2 separate regions of the Homo sapiens genome follow, and region 1 is linked to region 2. The links come from fine-mapping of genetic effects on plasma protein levels. Region 2 holds a variant in brackets. A gene starts in the other region. All regions are shown on their forward strands.

Region 1 (2,500 bases), not on the chromosome of region 2:
CTACCTGGCAGAAGTCCTCCGAGAATTGGGGTGCCCCAGCTCCTCTTTCTACACTGGCTTCTCAAGAGCCAGATCACTGGGTCTCCTAGGGTGTCCGCAGCGTTTCCAGCACCTTCCCACGCACCTGGCTGGCTCCAAACCCCTCCAGCACTGAGGTCTTGGCCACAACTGTCCCAGTGCAGCCCCCCAGGGACGGGAGGGCAGAAAGCAGCCTTGCTCAATGTCCTGTTACAAGGCAGGGACGGGGGTGGGGCCCTCCCCAGGAGTGGGCAGATGGGATGCCCACGGGCGGAGACCCTGGGGAGGGGAGGAATTGGACTTCCTTAGTAGGCTGGAAAAGGGGCAGGGAGAGGGGGCAGAGAACAGGTTTCTGGCCCCAGGAAACTCAGGTATTGGGAGGGCAAGAGGAAGAGGGTGGTACTGCCTCCCGGATAAGGTGACCAACTTTCCCAGTTTGCCCCGGACTGGGGGAGTGGGTTCCAGGGATGCAGGGCTTTCCACGCTAAAACAGAAACAGCCGTAGACTCTGCCGGTAAAGGGCCTGGGCAAGTCCCGGGACATGCACAAACTGTGCCTTCTGTGGAAAGGGAACTGGACCAGTTCGGGTCTCGGGGGTGCTTTCAACTCTGCCACCTGGGCTGTGGCCCCAGAAGCAGGTGGCCGGGAGGCTCTAGGGATGGCGGGGGCAGGTGAGGGGAGACTGGTGGGCTCCGGAAGGCTTCTCAGCGCGGAGCTCCAGCTGCGGGGAGGCGCGGCCCCTCCCGGATGCCGGGACGAGGGAGGGGAAGGGAGGGGAAGAGGCGGGGTAGGTAGGGGCGGGGGGCGCGGCAGCGGCAGCGCGCATGCCCGGGCCCGGGGCGCCTGGACCTCGGGAGGGAGCGGAGGGCGCCTACCTGCAGGCCGTTGGGGTATGCGTCGCCCTCGGAGAGCGAGTCCACCAGGTCCTCCTCGTCCAGCGTGGCCCGCTTGTACGTCGACATCTGCAAGGCCAAATGCAGCACGGACTCCCTCAGCGCCTCCATGGCTCTCGCGCCCGAATGGGGAAGCGGCCCCGACCCTGGCGCCGCCGCCGCCGCGCCCCGCCCCGGCCTGGACACCCGAGACCGAGACCGGCCCACGGAGCGGCCCGCGCGGGGAGGGGTCCCGCCCGCCTCCCGCCCCCGCCCTCCAGGCCGCGCCCGCCTCACCCCCAGCGCCGACAGCAGGGCGGACACCGGGGGCGGCCACACGCCCCGCATGCTGTGCCCCAGACGCCTGGTCCCGCTGCCCGGGTGGCCGGGATGGGATGGGCCGGGCCAGGCGTTGCACCACCTTCGCGGGCGGGGCCTGATCGGTTCGCCGGCGCCCGGTTCCCAACCTCCGGCCTCCCGGGGAGACCCCAAGACCCGAGAGGCCCGGGGGAGATGGGGACCCCTCCCTTCCCCGGAGGTCGGGAGTGGGGGCCCCCAAACTGAAGCCCCTAGCAGGCAGGAAAGGCCCTCACAGTGACCCCTCCTTCGAGAAAATCTTAAGTCCCCCTTCAACAACCGGGTCCCCAGTGGCAGATAACAAAAGTATCAGGAAGGTGCCCTCGATGTGGCCCAGAGCAATCAAGACAGGTTCCCCCCGGCATCAGCCCTTAGGTGTGTCTAGGGGGTTAATGCTAGAAAGACCAGACAAAAAAGGTGGGGTAAAAAGGTAGGTGTCCCCTTTCAGTTCCCCTTTCTAGCTCAGAGGCCTTTAAGCCAGAGTTCGTGAATGAGTTTCAGAAAATTTCAGAGAACTCCCTGACACGGGATGAAAGGAGCTGTGTGTGTGCATTTGGATGGCTGCAGGGTGGTCCGGTGGTCACCCCCGTGCTCAAAGGTGTCGCCCTCCCTGCAACACAAGAGAACCATTGCTCCAGGGGGAGTCAGAAGCCAGGAAGGGGACCCTTCTTTCCCATCTTCCCCCTCAAGACTCGGAGCCTCAGCCAGGTGCCCCCCTCCCCAGCCCCTGAGCCCTCTCCTATAACCCTAGGCAGGGAAAGGGGGCTCTCTCGGATATGAGGTGTTCAGTTAGGGACTCAGGCCCAGCACTGTCCCAACCAAGAACCCCAGAGAGGTCTAACCCAGCAGATTTCCAAAGGACTCTCCGCTTCTAGCAAGGCGGGAATCCCTGCATTTATGCGTACTTTTCAGCTTTGCAAAGTGCATTTCTGCTCATTCCAAATTTGATTCTCACAGTCACACATATGTGTGAATAAACAGGTTTAGAGGGGTGAGGGGCCTGACGTCACAGGGACAGTGAGGGCAATGGCTCCAGATGGTCTCCTGGCTTCCACTCCTGCCCTCTGACAGCCCCCTCAGCAGCCAGGATGAGCCTTTAAAATGAAATCTGGCTGAGGCCAGGCACCATGGCTCGCTCGCGCCTGTAATCCCAACACTTTGGGAGGCCAAGTTGGGTAGATCACTTGAGGTCAGGAGTTCAAGACCAGCCTGGCCAACATGATGAAACCCCATCTCTACTAAAAATACAAAAA
Region 2 (3,004 bases):
GGCTGCGGAGCGAGGACCTGCTGGAGCAGGGGTACGCCACGGCCCTCTCAGGGCACCCACTGCGCTTCAGCGAGAGGGAGGTGAGCCCTGGCCCTGGCCTGCCCCGCTCCATCCCGCCCCGCCCCGCCCCTGCGCGCCATTGCCCCAGGCCCCACGGCCCACGCAGTCAAGAACCCCACCTCCCCTAGCCAGGGGGCGCCTCCTGCTGAGTCCAGCCCGGGACTCCGCCCTTGACCTGGGCCTCGCCCACTGCTGTGGGCCTGTCCTGCCCAGCGCCCTTGTGTCCTTCCGAGGACTGAGCCCCGCCCCCTGCCCTGACTCCGCCCCAGACCCCGCCCACCTCGTCCTGGTCCCGAAGAACCGGGACTGCCTGCACCCTGACTTGCCCAACCCAGGTTCAACCTCCACCTCAGGCCCCGATAGCTTCCGAGCACCCCACCTATCTGCTTCATCAGCCCCGTGCCCCGCCCCCAGGGCAGCATATACCTCAATGACTTCGCGCGCGTGGTGAGCAGCGACCATGAGGCCGTGAACGGCATCCTGCACTTCATTGACCGTGTCCTGCTGCCCCCCGAGGCGCTGCACTGGGAGCCTGATGATGCTCCCATCCCGAGGGTATGACAAGCACGGGCCTGGGAGCTGGAAGACAGGCAGGTGGGGGCCTGGGATCCTCCCTTCCCGCCTGGCCTAGCTGTTTATGAGAGCCTTTCCTCAGAGAAATGTCACCGCCGCCGCCCAGGGCTTCGGTTACAAGATCTTCAGCGGCCTCCTGAAGGTACTGCTCCCGTGTGGGCCTGTCATTGTGGACACACATGCACGTGTAAGTGTGTGCAAGTGTGTATGCGTACCTGTGTGTGCATACCCACCTGTGTGCACACTGTCCCGTGTGAGCCTGTGTGAACTCATGTGTGCACAAGCCACATCTGTGTGCATGTGCACCCCAGGTTGAGCACATGGGTGTGCTTATGTGTGCCCACATTCCTGACAGCAGTGTGCACAGTTGAGATGTGTGCACACACATGCCTGCCTGGGATGGTCACAGATGAGTGTGGGTGAGTGTGGAGCCCCTTCCTGCTCTGTGGCACAGCCCCCTGCCTTTGCTAACTAGTCTCTGACTGGGCAGCGACTGCCACATCTTTGCTGCACCCCACCAGGTGGCCGGCCTCCTGCCCCTGCTTCGAGAGGCATCCCATAGGCCCTTCACAATGCTGTGGCCCACAGACGCCGCCTTTCGAGCTCTGCCTCCGGATCGCCAGGCCTGGCTGTACCATGAGGACCACCGTGACAAGCTAGCAGCCATTCTGCGGGGCCACATGATTCGCAATGTCGAGGTGGGTGCAGCCCCCAACCTTGGTCTTCACTGCCTGCAGCTCAGCCTGCCTTTCCACCTCCAACCATGACTCCACTTGCTCAGGCCTTGGCATCTGACCTGCCCAACCTGGGCCCACTTCGAACCATGCATGGGACCCCCATCTCTTTCTCCTGCAGCCGAACGCGGGCCGTGAGTCTGGGGAGAGGGCTTGGATGAAGGGAGTAGGAGGCAGGGGCCCTGGCAGTAGCAGCTGGAGTGCACCTGCGACCCTTGCATACCTCATATTCTCTCCTTGCAGGGTGAGCTCATGGTGGGTGAGGATGATGCTCGCATTGTGCAGCGGCACTTGCCCTTTGAGGGTGGCCTGGCCTATGGCATCGACCAGCTGCTGGAGCCACCTGGCCTTGGTGCTC[G/A]CTGTGACCACTTTGAGACCCGGCCCCTGCGACTGGTGAGGGAGGCCAGAGGCAGACGGGCAGAAGCCCACCCCGCCTGTGGTGTCCATCCACCTGACTTTGCTGTATTGGCCTCCCTCCCTTCCAGAACACCTGCAGCATCTGTGGGCTGGAGCCACCCTGTCCTGAGGGGTCACAGGAGCAGGTACAGGGCTAGGGGCTGAGTGGGGGTGGTGGGGTGGGGGCAGGCAGAGCCCAAGGACCACCAAACTCAGAACCACCCAACTGCGGCCTGACTCCTTTGGCCCAGGGCAGCCCTGAGGCCTGCTGGCGCTTCTACCCGAAGTTCTGGACGTCCCCTCCGCTGCACTCTTTGGGATTACGCAGCGTCTGGGTCCACCCCAGCCTTTGGGGTAGGCCCCAAGGCCTGGGCAGGGGCTGCCACCGCAATTGTGTCACCACCACCTGGAAGCCCAGCTGCTGCCCTGGTCACTATGGCAGTGAGTGCCAAGGTGAGCATTGCAGACACTGTTGACTAGCTCCTCTGTTCCCCAAGAGAGCCAAGGCACAGCTCTGGCCATTGTCCTTGAGAGAGTGTTGGGGCGTCCAGGGCTGGGGAGCTCTGGGTGGTGAGTAGATTTTACTAGCGGGAGTGCTCGGGAGAGGCATGGCGGTAGTGTGGACGGTGCAGAACCTGGGGAGGAGTGCTGGGGGGTCTGGATGTTCTCCAGGACATGGGCCTGGAGGGATCTTAGCAGTGGGCGGACATAGGTCAGGGACAGATGGCAGGGCTAGGCTGGAGGTACGTATATGGGGGTCCTGGTGAGAGCCCCTGGCCCCACCTCACTTCTCCTACCCCATCCCCAGCTTGCCCTGGCGGCCCCAGCAGCCCTTGTAGTGACCGTGGCGTGTGCATGGACGGCATGAGTGGCAGTGGGCAGTGTCTGTGCCGTTCAGGTTTTGCTGGGACAGCCTGTGAACTCTGTGCTCCTGGTGCCTTTGGGCCCCATTGTCAAGGTGGGCCATCCCTGCCTGCCCCACGGCCCGATTCCTTTGGCCCTTGTGGGCCAATCTTTATCTTCCTGCCTGTCCCTCTCCCCAGCCTGCCGCTGCACTGTGCATGGCCGCTGTGATGAGGGCCTTGGGGGCTCTGGCTCCTGCTTCTGTGATGAAGGCTGGACTGGGCCACGCTGTGAGGTGCAACTGGGTGAGTAGCCCCGTGCTCGTGCCCACCCTACACACTTGTGTACATGTGCACACATCAGTAAAGGCACCAAGGGTGGGTGGAACGGGCAGAGGC

Alleles and levels. Positions count from the first base shown, and alleles are read on the strand shown. Strength reflects both the effect of a copy and how common the allele is.
In carriers of allele G in region 2, the plasma level of the protein whose gene starts at base 1,287 in region 1 tends to be lower than with A alone (weak association).

What was found. A credible set is the group of variants that fine-mapping cannot tell apart. PIP is the chance, under the fine-mapping model, that this variant and not a neighbour inherited with it causes the effect. The UK Biobank Pharma Proteomics Project read protein levels with antibody pairs (Olink). The fine-mapping took linkage between variants from a reference panel, not from the people measured, so its PIPs are less certain.
Region 1: it holds the start of ECE1, and the variant in region 2 is the best candidate, but not a certain one, in a credible set for the plasma level of the ECE1 protein (UK Biobank, PIP 0.51).

Annotation. Positions count from the first base shown.
Region 1 is chr1:21,289,177-21,291,676 of GRCh38, forward strand. ECE1 (endothelin converting enzyme 1) reads right to left here and starts at 1,287. Exons shown (of 19, transcript NM_001397.3): 1 at 1,188-1,287; 2 at 894-980. The coding sequence starts at 1,238. RefSeq lists an enhancer at 1-292 and silencers at 969-1,138, 1,189-1,368.
Region 2 is chr3:52,518,790-52,521,793 of GRCh38, forward strand. STAB1 (stabilin 1) reads left to right here. Exons shown (of 69, transcript NM_015136.3): 48 at 1-80; 49 at 475-615; 50 at 716-775; 51 at 1,155-1,331; 52 at 1,415-1,501; 53 at 1,611-1,760; 54 at 1,853-1,909; 55 at 2,015-2,216; 56 at 2,572-2,721; 57 at 2,807-2,911. Among named protein-coding and RNA genes, the nearest start is that of NT5DC2, 14 kb to the right of the region's middle. RefSeq lists enhancers at 267-875, 876-1,482 and a silencer at 559-702. The variant G/A (reference allele first, on the strand shown) is at 1,726.